Regions from separate parts of the Homo sapiens genome. Here region 1 is linked to region 2. The links come from fine-mapping of genetic effects on plasma protein levels. Region 2 holds a variant in brackets. A gene starts in the other region. All regions are shown on one strand. Distances are between the middles of the regions.

Region 1 (8,632 bases), 16 Mb after region 2:
TTCTAAAACCATATGGAAGTGGAATTCCCTCCAACAAAGTAGGACAAGAGGATAAAAAATAAAACAAAGCTTTAAAAAAGACATTTTCTAGAGAACAAAGCCTTTTTTTGGGGTTCTGCTCTATAAAGTTTTGGACCTGCTGAAACTCAAAAATATGCCTGAGTTGCTTATTACAACCTAATACAATTTATTGGGTTACAATTTAGTGCAACAGACTAATAAAATTGTGTCTTGTTGTTAAATGTAGCAGCTTACCAACCTCTTTATGACATCAAGGCTCCCGCCCAGTTGGAAAAGAACTGCTAGTAAACACCAATATCAAACTTTTACTTTGGATAACTGGTCACCAGTAACAGAATTTACTTCCCTCATAGAGGCTCTGGTGCCCAGCATTTCAGAGTGCTTTGTAATCAAGTCATACAGTTTTAAGAAATGTAGAACCTGAGAGCTTTCCTTCAATTGTTTATCATCTGTCTTCCCTGCCTGGGCAGTGCTTGGTACAGCATAAATCTGAAGTCACACTTTTTGTAAGTGGTACTGAAAGAATCAGAATACAATATAGCTGTGTTGATTCTGAATCCTGGCACTCAATCAGAACGGCACAGTGTTTCCTGAAGTGGAAGTGATTGGGACCTGACATTATGAAAGTACTTCCCTTTCCATTCCAATCCAAACTCCCTGTTTAAATCAAGAAGAAAGTTGTAGTGTTGTAGAAATGCTTTTAATCTTGATTTTGAACAAATAGCAGGGTTTGGGCTCTTCTGCAGGCACCAACAATTTTGTTTACCATCAACAGAAGGTATCTTATGGCTACGTTATATTTGAAATAGCAAAATAAAGTTTATTTTATGTAAAAGAATGATTGGATTCAAACAAAAATATTAAGTATATGATAGTCTATGTGATAGCGGCAGGAGGCAGACAAATCCCTAGGCAGATAGGGGCAGGGCCCCAGTGAAACCCCACCTGCAAACCAAAGACAGTTTAAAGCCTGAAAGCCAAGCTACAAGTGTTGGGTAAATCCACGGACCGGATTGATAACCCCTCTTCCCACTTGGCACACTTTCCTCTGATCAATCCCCACCCTTCACCTACTTTACATATATCTACCCTTCCCTAATTGGTTTTTTACATTGTCATGCCCACCTTTGAGTGGTGCCTTTGTTTTAGCCTTTTTTGCATACTCACAAACCATGGAGCACACACTCCCTCATTCTGAGCCCATAAAAGCCCCAGACTCAGTCACACCAGCGAACTGCCCACCTTGGGGTCAGGGCAGGGGCCATCCACTTGGGGTCCCGTCTCTGCTGAGAACTGTCTCATCACTGAGTAAAACTCACCTCCGCCCTTTTCCCCTTCGGTTGTCAGCCTAACCTCATTATTCTTGGACGCAGGACAAGAAATTCGGACCAGCTAAACAGCGAGTGCAAATAGAGCTATAACCCTGTAGCACTCCGTTCCGCTAGTGAAGCAATGGGAGAGGGAGCTGCTGGCTGCCACACACCCCCATTCATTGGGCTGCAGATGGTGGGACTAAAAGAGCTGTTAATACATCTCTATTTGCCTGGTGTCTCCAAGTGTTTGGGCACTACTGCATCCCCCTCGTCTGGACACCAGAATCTGCTACCAGAGTCACTTGCCATACACCCAGGCCATCCACAAGCCCTACATGGAGCCTGTGACTGGGCCAGCACTTGGAACAGCCAGCCGGGCCTCCAGGCTTGCTCACTCACTCACAAACCGACTCCTCGCGGGCTGAGCATGCAGTCATAGTGGCCACGGGATCTGGGCGGGGATGAAAGACAAATGCATTCTGCCAGGCTGAGTGGGCAGGGCACCTCCTGCAGCCAGCCCAGGGCTGGAGGTCTCCAGCTGGCAAAGCGGCCCTGAAATAAATCCTGTGTCATGTGTTAAGAGAATAAAGCAAACTGGGGAGAAGGCAGGTGAGTGTGAGTGAAATTTGGCAAACACTGCACTAACATGAAAAATCTAAGAAATCTTCCCACCAAATGCTAGCTCAGGACACTGTTAGCACTTTTATTAAGGACTTTAAAACATGTTGTGGATATAAAAGGGTACTCCATTTAGAGCTACTAGTGTTTCCTCACTCCCCACTATATGAGACCCAGCTGGGGCATTTCTCTTTCACCTCCAGCTGCTCCTTCTCATTGAGCTTAAAGACCATCAGCTGGGCCTGGAGGCCATGCTCCTCAATTGAGTTCCTGTGTGGCCAGTAATAGGCAAACATGGTCCCTTGTCTCAAACCCGGCCATGACTAGGGAGTAAATGTGCACTTGGGCAGGTTAGTTAACTGCTGAGCCTCAGTTTTTTAGTCTGTGAAATGGATATCATGCTTACCCCCTGGAGTTCATTCATTCAATAACTTACTGGGCAGCTATTATGTACCAAAAACTGGGAATGAGGCGTTAACAATATAGTTTCTACCCTAGCAGAGCTAATTTCAGGGCAGAAGAGACAGACCCACACATAAAAATTTTAATAGCCAAGATGAGTTAGACATTCATTACATTTTATAAGTATGAGACAGAAAAATAGGGGTGACCTTTGGAATATACTTAAAAAGTAACATATAAATGAGACCCAGAGGGCCAAAAGGAACCTGCTGTCTAAATGATGGGGTGAAGAGCATTCCCAAGTAGAGGGAACCCAGCCGGCAGAGGTGGGAAAGAGGTCATAAGAAAGGACTTAGGCAAGGCAGGCAGTGGTCCGAAGCGGGTGAGGGGAGAAGACTTGTTAAAGAAATTGGATTTTATGCAATGATCAATGGGACCCCACTGAGGGCTTTAAGAAGGGGAGTCCGATTTACATTTATTTTTTTGAGACAGAGTCTCGCTCTGCCGCTCAGGCTGGAGCGCAATGGCGCAATCTCGGCTCACTCCAACCTCTCTGCCTCCCAGGTTCAAGCAATTCTCCTACCTTAGCCTCCCGAGGAGCTAGGATTACAGGCATCCACCATCACGCTCGGCTAATTTTTCTATTTTTGTAGAGACGGGGTTTCACCATGTTGCCCGGGCTGATCTCAAACTCCTAACCTCAAGTGATTCAGCCGCCTCGGCCTCCCAAAGTGCTAGGATGACAGGCGTGAGTCACCGCGCCCGGCCTTCGATTTGCCTTTTTAATACAGCTGTGTGCTCCAACTCTGCGGAGAATGGGTTGAAGACAAAGGAAGTGAGAGGGCTCTTGCTGAAGGCGTTGGGGACGGAGCAGATTCAGAACGTGAGGAAGTGACGGCAGCAGCTGCTAACCTTACTGCGTGCTCATTTGGGGCCGGCCAGGCACGATTCGAAGCGCCTCACCAAGTGTAAACTCGCTTCACCCTCAGGACAACTCTATACTACGTACCGTGACCGTCCTCCTATACTGGGAAACCGAGCACAGAAAGCTTAAGCGCCTGGCACGTGGTGGGCGCTTTCCTACTCACTTTCTGGGACCACGCACCTGTAAGCTTAGGTCTGGGAATAAAAACCCGAGCAGGGGCCCCTAGCGCCGCGCCCCGGCAGGACACAGGTCTCCGCAGCGCCCGTGCGCGCCCCCTGAGGCGCTGTGATCGGAGGAAACCGAGGCCCCGGGGCCGAGGCGACCCTGCCCCATCTTCCCGGCCGCGCCGCTTCCTCGCGGTCCGCCTCCAGCCCTGCCGGACCCCAGCAGCCCGCGCACCGCGACTCGGCCAGGAGCAGGATCCCGGGCCCGACCGCAGCCCGCGAGAGACCGCACCGAGTCCGCGCCCACTGCCGCCCAACACGTACCTGAGGCGCACAGAACCAACGCTTGCCTCGGATCCCGCCCCTTCGGCGGCCGCCGCGCATGCGCGCAGTTCAAACCCTGGCGGCAGCGGCTTGTGCCTCGAGGCCCGGCCCCTTCCCCTTCCGGAGAGCCCACCGCTGGGTCCTAAAGCCCGCCGGGTGTTTACCCAGGACGGGGCTGGGGAAACCTGGTCTCTCCTAGCTCTTGGCTTACTTCCTGGAGACTTCTTAAAACGAGAGGAGAACCAGAAAGGCGTCCCCTAACTTCGCTCTAGTTAACTAATAGCAAGACTCACCCTCTTTACAGGATTCTCATGGCTCAGGCTCCCAGGGCTCCATGCAGCGGCGTTTGGTTTAAAGTGGAGAGAGGATACGCTTAGGTTAAAGGCAGCTGCAAGGAGACCTGTGTCCTGGGAGGGGCTGGGTGCAGACTTTGAAATCTGCTGCAAAATAAAAAGTTAAATGAGTTCCCATTGGACTCAGAACCTCGAATGTCTGTTCCTTCTTCGCAACAGTTGCGTTCTCGTAAAATCTTCTGAGAAAAGGAACTCGCCCCACGTTCCTTGCCTTTAATAAGGATGTTTGCTGTGGGATTTGGGCTCGGTGCTGTTTATGGTATTTATTCTTGGAATCTCTTTCACACTAGGCATCTCTTCCAGAGGACTGAGTGAAATACATCTGTGTAAATATAACGGCTCGTTTCGTTCTTTCATTGAAGATCTACTTTGTGCCAGGCACAGTGCTAGGTGCTGGGATTATCTTGAGGACATAACAGATGTAGTAGCTGCCCTAGGAGCTCGATCCCAATGACTTGCTGATCTGAACGAGAATCCTGGACTTGGCTCTTTTCGTTTGGTTCTTCTTGTTTGTTCACAGTCTTTTTGTCTCCTATAACGTTTAGCATAGTGTCATAGATCTAAATGATTAAAAGTAACCTATTGCAAGATGGAGGGAGAGAATGAAATAAATCATGAACCAGGCATTGAACCAGCACCTAGAAGCGCTTGGATTTCCAGCCGCGCTCAACGAGTTAAGGGACAGTCAGGGGGTGGAGCCAAGTGCTGGGGGCAGGCCTGGGCGCCTCACTGCCAGGGCGGCTCCAAGGAAACGTAATTAAACAAAGACTCTGGCCAATAGCCCTGCGGGATTAACGCGAGTGGCTGGCAGGTTGTCCAATGGGAGGAGACGTCGGAGTTGCGCGGTGAAGTTCGGCTTCCTGAGCCGCGGTGGGCGTGGCCGCGGTAGGCTGCCAGCCAGGCTGGGAAAGCGGTGGTAGCTGGTTGGGTTGCTGGGGCTCGGTTGTTGTAGTCGCGATGTTCTTCTCCGAGGCCAGAGCCAGGTCGCGGACGTGGGAAGCCAGTCCCTCGGAACACAGGAAGTGGGTGGAAGTAGGTTTCCGGAGGGCGACTGAGCCTCGGACTTCAGCTTGGCCTGGGCCTCTCGCTTCCTCTCCCGTGTCTGGGTCTCACTCTGCCGGGTGTGCAGATAAGACCTGGGCTGCCTGTCCAAAGGGTCGTGGTTAATGACTGATCCTGGAGCTGCAGGGCTCCTGGCTCCCCGTCCAGGACTACGGCTACCTCCAAGTTCCATCTCCTTTCTCTCTATATAGTCTATTAATGGTAACCTTGAGTCTGCATCTCTCCCGCCTTTCAAAGCCAGCCCCTTTGCCTCACCTTCCTAACTCCAGGACTGAATTTTGGGTAGAATTTATCTCAGTGGCCTAAATGAATTAATTTGCGTCACCTAGCGGTTAACTCGTTTGCACTTTGAGGGAAATTTCAGCCCATGTTTAAGAAAATTTCAGTCCATCTTTAAGATTTCTTGAGAATTAATATTGGGATAATGAAATTCTATTTTCATACTCTACCGCTGGGCCAAGTTTTAGATTTTCGAGGTCCAAACTGTATAATAAACTAGTAATAAAAATAAACCATTTCTGTCTCATTAACTAAAGCTATTTAATGTTCTTCAGGTATTTAAAGCATGTGATGAAGATCACAAAGGATATCTCAGCAGAGAGGACTTTAAAACTGCTGTTGTAATGCTGTTTGGGTACAAGCCCTCCAAGGTAGAGCTTTCTTATATATTTGGGGATGGGGTAGACGATCAAAGGTGAATGGATCCTAAGAAAAGTTCACAGGGCTAGCTTAGGATGTTTATAAATTGCTTTATAAGCAATTTCAGAGATGTGTCCAGTGCTGAATTTTAGCTTCCTCTTAACACCTCAGCCCAGAGATGAAGTAGAAATCTTTTCCACTGGAGTCTACACAAGCCTATCTCACCACCAGGCTGCTAATAACTACTATAAATACAAGATGCTAGAGAGGTGCCAAGAGGGAAGACTGAGAGGGGAGTGTTGGTAACAGGAGAAATTTACATAGGACATGACATAGTCTCTTTCTCGTTTTACTTTTGTTGCTTTGTTTATAAAATACATCCACGGTCAAAAAATTAAAACAGTGCAGAAAGGTATAAAGTTGAGCATAAAATCCGCTCGCCGCCTACCAGAGGGTCCCACTCCTAGGGGATTACCATTAACAGTTTTTTTGTGTAATTCTGAAATTTTCTATCCATGACATACATATGCATAGTCTTTTATTGAAAACATAAATGGGTAAATATTGTGCCTACTTTAACTTGCTTTTCTCATTTAACAATATATCAACCTAAAAGCACACACCACTACTGCATTTTAAAATATGGTTGCATATTCTTTTTAGCCAGGTTCCTGTCTGGGGTTATATAGGTGGGGTTTTTTTTTTTTTTCTGCCAACATTGCTGCAATGATACACACATTTATGTCCTTGTGGCTGTATATCTGTGGAATAAGTTCCTAGAAGTATAACTGCTAGGTCATGGAATATGTACGTTTAAAATTTTGTTAGATATTTGCTCTCCAGAAAAGATTGCACCAATTCACCAATAATGAGAGTTGAGCTGAGCCTCCATGAACCTCCTGCTTGAGTAGGGCAAGTTTCCTGCTCACCCCTGTCTTTATGCTTTTCTGCTTTCCTGTTACATTCATTCGAGAGACAACACCCTTCTTGTTAAGCTGGAATTAGTCAGAGTCAAGATATTGTCCAGATTCAAGAAATTGAGCTGCCACCATCAAGCAAAGGAAGCACTCAGAGCTCAGCCTGGAATGCCATCCCTCACTCTCATTAGACCAGACAGCTTGGCAGTTAATTAGGGCCCAGCTGTTCTCCTCATGAGTGGACTGTGCCTTTCTGTCAGATTGAAAGCCCAGCAAAGCCAGGGACCCTGTGATGTCATGCCTCTCCGCCCTATTTGTGTCAACAGAACATACTTACTGTGAAGTTGTGATGCACAATAAGTATTAATATATTCTCTTGACCCAAGTAGGTTGCATGAACAGCTCAGGTGGGTTCAGAGTGGCTCAGCTATGAGGGGCTGCCTAGTTACTGAGAAGCTTATTATGGAGCTCAGAGAAGTAGTCAGGGCTGACTCTTAGAAATGGCAGCTCTCCTGTTTACCTGTAATCATTTCAGTTGGAATTACAAAGCAGGTCAGCTGAAAAGAGTCAGCCTGTGAAGCATTGTATTTAACTTGGATTCACCTGGAAAGGTATCTTGTCTCATTTTTGCCTTTATCACCCTTGAGTCTATTTGGTTTCAATTTTAGAATGAGGAATTTAATGACAGATACAGTGATGTAACATACTGTACATACACTCCATGAAATTTAACAGATTTTACTTTTCATATTGAGGTGAGGTTTTCTATTTTATTTTTTAAGCAAATGAACTATTTAGTAACCGCAGGTCACTAAACGGTATTTACTAATAGCATGTCACCTATAAACTTAGTCATTTGTACAATGAACTTTTATTATGCAGGTGACACTTAATTTCTGTGAAATTCAACAGATTTTTTTAGACTAGGTTGAGGTTTGGGGTTTAATTTTTTAATATTGCTTTTGAGCAAATGAAATATTCACTGACTGCAGGTCATGAAGCAATAAAATACTTATATAATAAATCACTTATACATTCATGCAGTTTTTTACATAATTAAGTTTATTTATTTGTTGAGATGCAGTCTTGCTCTGTCACCCAGGCTAGAGTGTAGTGGCGTGATCTAGGCTCACTGCAACCTCCACTTTCCAGGTTCAAGCAATTCTCCTGCCTCATCCTCTTGAGTAGCTGGGACTACAGGTGCACACGACCATACCCGGTTCTTTTTTTTCTTTTTTTTTTTTTGTGTTTTTAGTAGAGATGGGGTTTCACCAATGTTGGCCAGTCTGGTCTCCAACTCCTGACCTCAAGTGATCCGCCCACCTCAGCCTCCCAAAGTGCTGGGATTACAGGCATAAGCTACTGTGCCCACCCATACACAATGAAATTTATTGTTTCTATTTAATAAAAGGAGTACTTGCTAGTTGCTAGTGATATAAAGATGAATGAAACACAGTCTCTACTTCGAAGCAGTTCAGAGTTTAATATAGAAAGACATAAAACTGTGATAGATACCAAGAAAGAGAAGAGATTGAAAAACAAAGTGAAGGGAGCAAAGAAGGAAGGCCTAATTCTAGTGGTAACTATAACAGTCTGGGTGGTCATTTAGACTAGAGAAGATAGACTACTCTGATAAGTATCTAGGAACACTTTGTGGGTGGTGGGACAAGTTAGGCCCTGATGACTGATTGGATGTGGTGGTGGTAAGAGTGACATGACCACTGGGACTGAAGGGATAGCAATGCCACCAATTAAGAGAAAATTTAAGAGTAGGTTCAGAGGAAGTCAGTGAGTTTCGATTGGAACACATTGAGTTTGAGGCAGCTATGAGCATTCCAGGTGCATTCACTCGTTAAATAATATGCTGGCTATTGAGGTTATGGTGGTGAAAATC
Region 2 (8,632 bases):
CCTCTGAGCCTGCAGAGAAGCTCAGCGAAGTTTTGTGGAGTCAGAGAGCTTTCCCATGTGGGGAACCTCTAGCTTCCTCACTCTCGGAGATTACTGGTCAGCTGTAATTGAGTGGTTAAGAATTAGAGCACCTGGGAGCCTGTCTCATCACAGCTCCATTATGTAACTTACCACCATTAGACTGCGGGTAATAACTCAATCTTGATTTTTCTGACCCGATTTTCTCATCTTATTCATTACTAATTTTGTTTATGGAAAATGTTATGTTTAGTTTATGATTAAAACCTCAGAACTTTCTGAACTTATCAGGAATAATACAAAATGTGTCCAGTTTGGGGGAAATGTAAATGAATGTCCATGCAGTTTGGGTGTGTGTGTGTGCGTGTGTGTGTGCATGTGTGTTTGTTTGTGTGTGTGTGGATATGTCAGTCACTTACACCACAATGAACATGATTGCTGAATTACATAGTCAAACTAAAATTAGATTTGCTGAAAATTGCCTGCAGCGATGTCTGTGAAGCTGACCCTGTCACTTTGCTGTGAAGAAACTCAGTGTACAGGCGAGGTTGCACGGGAGAGCTAAAAGCTTCAGCACACAGGACAGGCTGAGCTCCTGAACTGGAGCCAGGCACAGGACTGAGCACCTGAGAAACAGAACCCCCAGCCCTCCTTTATCTGGGCTGGATGGGCACCAGAGGACCCGCAGGAGATGCTCAGAACTCACACAAGACAGAGCCTCAGTGAGGAGCAGAGGCAGCGAGGAACCAGCCAGGGAGCCTGTGACCGCCACCTCGGGTTGTCTTATTTTGCTTAACAGCATCCAAACCTCAGGAGACCATTTATTACGTTATTTAGACCTCACGCCCTTTCTGTCCCGAAGTAAAACAAACATAAATATGACTCTGCAGTTAGCTCTTTGAACCTGGGTTATTTTTCTGAGAATGTCATCTTCGTCATCAACATCATGGTCATCATGTCAAAATCAACAGGCAAATCCAGTCACCGTGAAGACAGTTTCATGGCATGATTCATACACAATCATTCCATTCTACAGAGAATCTCTTTCAGATTCTTAAGGTGGATTAAAGTGTTATATTTAATTGCCAATTGTGAAATTGGTGGAAGACATTATACTAAAGGAATTGTCTCTGACCTCTCATGGGGTCATATTTCCAGAAAATCATTGTGATCCTGAGTGTGAGCTGACTTTCCAAGTGTTCCCAACCCTCCTCCAGATGAGATGCTGGTCTGTGTGTTCTTGCTCCTTCCCCTGGGGCAGATTCCTCTTGTTTTCCCCAGTTGTTCCCTCCCACAGCTCTCATAATCTCTGTTGGTGTCCCCAACTTCCAGATCTGCTGCCATGACCTGCAGATTAAAGCTCTGATTCCGTAAGAAAGTGAGGGGAGCTGCTTCTCAATAGAGCTTTGATGGGAACCTCTGTTCATACCTCAATTCTTAAGGGGCTGCACCAGTGCCCTAGGATGCTGATTTTCATGGCTTGCTCCTGCAGGGTAATATCTTAGTTTTGTAGTGGGGATCAGAGAACTGGGTCTGGATGCATTTCAGAAGTGTGAGCTCATTCTCTCCCAGACAGATACTATGGGAAAGGAAGATGTTTTGCAGGGGTAAATGATTCAAGAGATTAGGGCAACTCTCCAGTATGAGGTCCCTTAGAATTTCTCACTATAACATGCCTAACACACTCGACTTCAAGCAATCCAGTGTATATTTGTTCTTCATCTTGTAATAGCCTACATTTTATATGACAGCCTCTGCCTCAGGGAATTTCATACTCTGGCTTCATTACTCTCTACAGGAACTTGCCTCTCCCTAGATTTCAAATATTTTGTTTGTTTTCAACCCTCAATTATCTGAAGCATTAAGTAAAATTTGCAAACTTCCATCTTTTCTGTTTATCTGTTATTGTTGATACTATTGTTGTAAGAATGAATATATGGGCCCGGTGCGGTGGCTCATGCCTGTAATCCCAGCACTTTGTGAGGCCGAGGTGGGTGGATCACGAGGTCAGGAGATCGAGACCATCTTGGCTAACACGGTGAAACCCCATCTCTACTAAAAATACAAAAAATTAGCCAGGTGTGGTGGTGCGCACCAGTAGTCCCAGCTACTTGGGAGGCTGAGGCAGGCGAATGGCGTGAACCCGGGAGGTGGAGCTTGCAGTGAGCTGAGATCGCGCCACTGCACTCCAGCCTGGGTGACAGAGTGAGACTCTGTCTCTAAAAATAAATAAATAAATAAATAAATAAATATGTGTGTATATATATATATTTCTCATCTATGTACATTTTTAAGCTTAGCAGCATATTTTTTAGTGAGATCCAGAATAATAAAAGAATCCAAACATTTTTCAGCTGCCTAATAGAGAAACAAATTCTGGTAAATTTTTTCACTGGAATACTACTCAACATTTATAATAAATATATTTCTGGTACACAGAACAACAAGGAAAAGTATCTAAGTATTTATGCTGAGTAAAATAAGCCAGACAAATAAGAATATGTACTATATTACTCCATTTATGTAATTTATTTCAAATGAAAAAAATCTAAAGTAATATACAAAAGATGAGTAGTTACCTGGGAAAAGGGTAGAATAAAGGAAGGGGAAATGTGGAAACATACAGAAGAACAAGAGAAAATGTTGAGGGGAACTCACTTGTCCACCTCAGTAATGATGACGCTTACATCATGTTTTCAATTCTACACTTTAAATACGTGAAGTGTATTATCTGCCAATTAACACTCACAAAATTTATTGCAAGCAAACAAATGAAAAATTAGACCAAAAGCGGTGGTATAAAGATACAAAATATCCATTAAAAGTCAGAAATATCTGAGAATTTACCTCCTGAACCCTAGTTCTCTCCTTATTTTTAGGTGAATGCTAGAGTGCCACAAAAATCACTCAAGTTCTCAATACAGGAAGTGGGTTCCACAAAGCACACTAGGCATGTCCAATTCTTACCTGGAGTTGGTTCAGGGAGTAACTGGGGCCACTGATGTGGAGCACAGGCCAAGCTACCAGGGCTCATTCATCTCAGACATGAGACACACACAGCCCCTCCTCCATGTGTGGGTTTATTTCACATCTGTAAATGGAGAAACCATTGACTTCTACAGAACATAATTTGCACAAATATGTAAAAATATAATAGTGCAAAATGTTTATCACAACACATTTTCATAATAAGACAGTGTATTTCCCAAATACCATAATTGTCACCCAACTCCTGCGGGGCCCTGTCATTTTATCTGGGGTCTGCCGTCTCCTCAGGGTTCCCACCCCAGAGCTCTCTGTGTAGCAGGAGACACGCAAATAGGGCCCTCCCCATGCTGATGAAAACCAGCTAAACCCTGACCCTGCAGCTCTGGCAGAGGAGCCTCAGCCCCGGGATTCCCAGGTGTTTCTGCTTGGTCAACACTGAACATACAGGATTCACCATGGAGTTGGGGCTGAGGTGGGTTTTCCTTGCTGCTATTTTAAAAGGTGATTTATGGAGAACTAGAGCTATTGAGTGTGAATGGACATAAGTGAGCGAAACAGTGGATATGTGTGGCAGTTTCTTACCAGGATGTCTCTGTGTTTGCAGGTGTCCAGTGTGAGATGCAGCTGGTAGAGTCTGGAGCAAACTTGACAAAGCCTGGGTGTCCCAGAGACTCTCCTGTGCAGCCTCTGGATTCACCTTCAGTAGCCATAGCACGCACTGGGTCCCCCAGGCTCCAGGGAAGGGTCTGCAGTGGGTCCCAGTTATTAGTGGTAGTGGTAGTACCATGTACTACGCAGACTCTGTGAAGGGCCGATTCACCATTTCCAGAGACAATACGAAAAACTCACTGTATCTGCAAATGAACAGACTGAGGGCAGAGGATGCAGCTGCATATGACTCTGTGAGAGATACGGTAAGGAGAAGTCAGTGTGAGCCCAGACACAAACCTCCCTTCAGGGTACCTGGGACAACCAGGGAAAGCCTGGGACACTGTGCACTGTGCTGACCCCAGGGGCAAGTGCAGGTGCTACAAGGGCTGGGTTTCCTGTCTTGATCTGGGGCTGCGTTGTTACCAAATTACCCGAGGGAACTTCTCTAGATTTGCAATTCTGTACTAACATTTGATGTCTGTGACTGCTAAACTTCCCTCACATATTTGTTTTTTGTTTGTTTGTTTTGTTTTGTTTTTTGTAACAGGAAGACCCATCCTCACCCCTACAGAAGCCCGAGTGTCACCTTGGGGGCAGAAATGACCCTGCCTTGGTCACATTGATCAGTGTCCTGAGGAAGCCCAGTGGAACCTGGGGAGTGTTTTCCAGTCAGGCTCAGGGCAGAGACCTCCGTGGAAATCTCTGATTAGAATAGGTTTGGGATTCAGACTTGGGCCAAGAGGGAGTCTCACCCATGGGAGGGTCCTTAAATCCTGACAGTTTTTACAGCTGTTCTCCCTCCTCTGGCAAAACTGTGCACATCTGACTCAGAACTGATCCAGCTGGCCCTTACTTGCTAATCAATTTTTCTTCTCTCTACACTTCATTCTCATAGTTCCCTTTTCTTCCCTTCCCAGAAAACAGAGAGTGTGTTTTCTGTGGTCTAAATCTCAGGGCTCAGGCCTGTTACCTGGAACTCAGGTGTGGCCCAGGCTGTGGCTCCTGTGAGACCTGGGGAGGCTGAGGGGACTTTCCCACTCACCATTGCCTGGACCCGCCTGCTGTCTTCTGTGCATGGAGGCATTTGGGAAATGAAGTGGACATTAGTCACTGAGGGGATAATGGTAGCTTTCTCAAATGAGATACTGATGTAGAGCTGATCTTCTGTTTCTCACACTGTCACAGAATTTCCTCCTTCATCTGTGACTTTGGGGAAAGCTAAGGATGGACACTCTATTGTGCTGTGAGCTCTGGGTGACAGCAATTGGAGGGTCTGGCTAGGCAAATCCTACAGGGTTTCAGGTCAATGGAGTTGGAATTTCTGGGAAGACCTACACTGTCATCCTCCATGGAGTCCCATC[G/A]TCATCTCTTATGCTCTGATGGAATCAGCCCCACCTAGGTTATCTAGGACAATCTTCCTGACTTAGGAAAAAAATGATGGCAGGCTTTACTAACACTTATATTATAGGATCAGTACAACACCTAGGTTAGTGTGTAACTGAATAAATGACTCTATGAGTCAAGGGGACACATAAAATTGATTGTTGCCATGACATTTATTTATTTATTTATTTATTTATTTATTGGAAACCAGAGTTTTATTGTTACTGAAATGAGTCTCGCCAAGCATTCAAGAATGGGATTTTTTAAGGATAGCTTGGTGGGTTGGGGGCAGCCAGTGAGTCATGAGTACTGATTGATCAGGTCAGAGATAAAATCATAGGGAGCTGAAGGTGTCTTGTGCTGAGTCAGTTCCTAGGAGGGGGCCACAAGATCGGATGAGCCAGTTTATTGATCTGGGTGATGCCAGCTGATCCATCAAGTGCAGAGTCTGTAAAATATCTAAAGCATTGATCTTAGGCTTTATAATAGTCATTTTATCCCCAGGAGCAAACTAGGAAGGGTTAGAATTTGTAGCCACCAGCTGCATGACTCTTAAAACATAATTTCTAATATTTTGGCTAATTCGTTAGTCCCCCAAAGGCAGTCTAGTCCCCAGGACGAAGGAGATTTGTTTTGGGAAAGGGCAGTTATTGTCTCTGTTTTAAACTATAAACTAAACTAAGTTCCTCCCAATGTTAGGTAAGCCTACACCCAGGAATGCACAAGGACAACCTGGAGGTTTGAGGCAAGATGGAGCAGGTTAGGTCACAGCTCTTTCACTGTTTCAGTTGCAGCTTTGCAGTGGTGGCTTCAATTCCTCCCTTTGAGTTTTGACCTTATCGACTTGTTTTGTTTCTCTTTAAGTGATGGTTTTATAACCATCTATGAAACTCTAACAGGTGCTCTTACATGCAGATTTCTGATTAAAAACTCTGAAGATGGTTACAATAGTATAGAGATAAAACTATCAAATAGAAGACTATCTTTTTTGACTTTTCACTTAAAATGTTGCCCAAGAAAACTTTTCTTTTGAGCTATTTATAGCTTTCAACAATTGAGTATAGTCCTGTACATAAAATTTGGAGAATATTTGTTTCTCTCTGTCCACTTTCTCCAGAATTTGGAAACTCTTTGTGAATATCCTTAACTTATGGCAATATGATTTTTCATAAGTGCAGTAAGATTTTTTTTTTTTTGCAACAGGACACAATTGGAGAAACTGGTTATTTTACCAAGGCTTTGACTGTAATGGCGTGCTTCACCTTAAGCAATCGAACTTGACTTATACAGCCAATAAGAGCCCCTTGGGAAAACTGGCCTGTACCTTGTCCACACAGTCTTTGTACAAGGTTCCTGACCAGTGGTAAGTAAAGAATGTCACTTTCTAACAGGCCCAAGAACCCCATGTTTTCCTGGGACCCCAGAGGAAAAATAATTTACCAGACTTACAGGTATTTGATGGTAAAAACTCATGGCTGGGCTTGGCTTTAAAAAAGTCTTATCTGAGATTCCTTATGGAACAGAGTTCCACCAAAGCCAATTTTAAAAGCCTGTGTAAACAATAATTATTTGTATTGTGCTTTATGCAAATAATAAGGCCATGAATAAGACTAAAGTTTATTTTGCAAATAAATCAGTCCTATCTTGATTTGTTTTAAATAAAAATGGGGACAAGAGAGAAAAAAATTATGCTTTAAAAATATAGTACACCTGTTGTTTGCTGTTCTTGTTTTTTTTTCTTCAGCAGTTTGGACGAAATTCTAAATTATTTGTAGGCTACAAAGCCATAAACTAATGCGTTCAAATCTTTACTTTTAAAACTGCGAATTGCACTCCTTACCCTAGTTCTCATTATGTACTTTATAGTATGTTGTTCCCTCAAATGTGGTGCTAGAATTATAGATGACAGCACTGACAGCTTTGCCATGCAAGCCTTGGAACCCCAGGCAGGCCTGCGTGAGTACACTCAGACAGTTGCAATGAGGTTCCAGTCCTCTTATCTTGAGGTCAGCACCTACCCCTACTACGCCCCAGGTCATCAATAAAAAGTTGTAACAGTCTTGGCCCTTCTTACATCTTCATTATCCAACACCATGATTTTTGTTTTTTGCCAAAACAATTGCCAAATATAGTCATAATCATAGGATAAATAATTTTGCTGAAATATATGTGTTATTATTGGTCTTTTGAGATGGAAAGTCCAAGACTGGATTATGCTTTCATGCATTTTTCATAAGAAGTACTTCCACTCTTTTGACAGGAAATGCACAGGGGGTGACATGTGGCTGCAGAAGCTGATGGCATATGGTAGAAATCTGTCCCTGAGTAAAGGAGAGATGGACGGAGGATTGGGTGAAACATTCTTAGGTTTCTGTGCTGTGCAAGGAAGGTGTAAAACATATTTGAGTCTACTACAAGTCAACATTACCCAAGGGGGAACCCCTGTGACTCCAGCAATGACTCTGCCTCAGAATCACTAAAGAGTCCTTCTTTTCATTAGAGTGGACCACAGGATCTGGGCCATAGCATAGACGTCAGAAAGCAGCAGCTTGACACCTGATCCATGTGCATTTTCCTGCCTTTAAAGGGAGGGAGAGAGGTGTATTCTCAGGGTCAACACACTCTTTGTTGATTTTTACACAGAACACTGGCATTTACTTTATTTCATTGAAAGATATATGAACAGATGTGTGTCTGCAAATGATTGTAATTTTCACATTTATTCCAATTGCATAATTTTTAAATTCTGCTTGATGTCCTGGCACACAGTTGTGTTTTCTATAGGTATTTTTCAATAAATCAAGAAAATACATTTTCCACTTTCACTGGCTTTTCTCCATGTGCAGAGGCCTTGAGTAGATCATGTCTGACTATTAGTCTGTTTTCATGCTGCTGATAAAGACATACCAGAGACTTGGAAGTTTACAATAGAAAGAGTTTTATTGGACTTACACTTCCACATGACTGGAAAGGCCTCACAATCATGGTGGAAGGTGAAAGGCACATCTGACATGGTGGCAGACAAGAGAAGAGAGCTTGTGCAGGGATCTCCCTTTTTACAATCATCAGATCTCGTGAAACTCATGCAGTATTACATGAACAGTGCTGGAGAAACCCGCAGCCATAATTCAATGACCTACCACTGGGTCCCTACCATGACACTGGGAATTATGGGAGTTAAATTCAAGATGTGATTTGAGTGGGGACACAGCCAAACCATATTATTTTGCCCCATGGCCCCTCCCAAATCTCATGTCCTCACATTGCAAAACCAGTCATGCCTTTCCTACAGTCCCCCAGAGTCAACTTGTTTCAGCATTAACTCAAAAATCCACAGTCTAACATCTCATCTGAGACAAGGCAAGTCCCTTCCACCTATAAACCTGTAAAGTCAAAAGCAAGTTACTTCCTAGAAACAATGGGGGTACTGGCATTGGATAAACACACCCATCCAAATGACAGAAATTGCCCAAAACAAAGGGGCCCTCTGCAAGTCCAAAATCCAGCAGAGCAGTCAAATATTAAAGCTCCAAAATGATCCCCTATGACTCCATTTCCCAAATCCAGGTCATGCTGATGCAACAGATGGTTT

Direction of the effects. Alleles are on the strand shown, and positions count from the first base shown. The strength of an association depends on the size of the effect and on how common the allele is.
For the plasma level of the protein whose gene starts at base 3,811 in region 1, A is the high allele of the variant in region 2 and G is the other (strong association).

The links. PIP is the posterior inclusion probability: the model's chance that the variant is causal. The UK Biobank Pharma Proteomics Project read protein levels with antibody pairs (Olink). The fine-mapping took linkage between variants from a reference panel, not from the people measured, so its PIPs are less certain.
Region 1: it holds the start of TDP1, and the variant in region 2 is fine-mapped to the plasma level of the TDP1 protein (UK Biobank, PIP above 0.99).

The regions. Positions count from the first base shown.
Region 1 is chr14:89,951,106-89,959,737 of GRCh38, reverse strand. It overlaps TDP1 (tyrosyl-DNA phosphodiesterase 1), which reads right to left and starts at 3,811. Exons shown (of 17, transcript NM_018319.4): 1 at 3,768-3,811; 2 at 2,938-3,160. It overlaps EFCAB11 (EF-hand calcium binding domain 11), which reads left to right and starts at 5,008. Exons shown (of 6, transcript NM_145231.4): 1 at 5,008-5,152; 2 at 5,737-5,832. The coding sequence starts at 5,078. RefSeq lists enhancers at 1,245-1,753, 4,779-5,279 and a silencer at 3,484-3,713.
Region 2 is chr14:106,050,828-106,059,459 of GRCh38, reverse strand. It overlaps IGH and the pseudogene IGHV3-6. Among named protein-coding and RNA genes, the nearest start is that of FAM30A, 140 kb to the right of the region's middle. The variant G/A (reference allele first, on the strand shown) is at 5,019.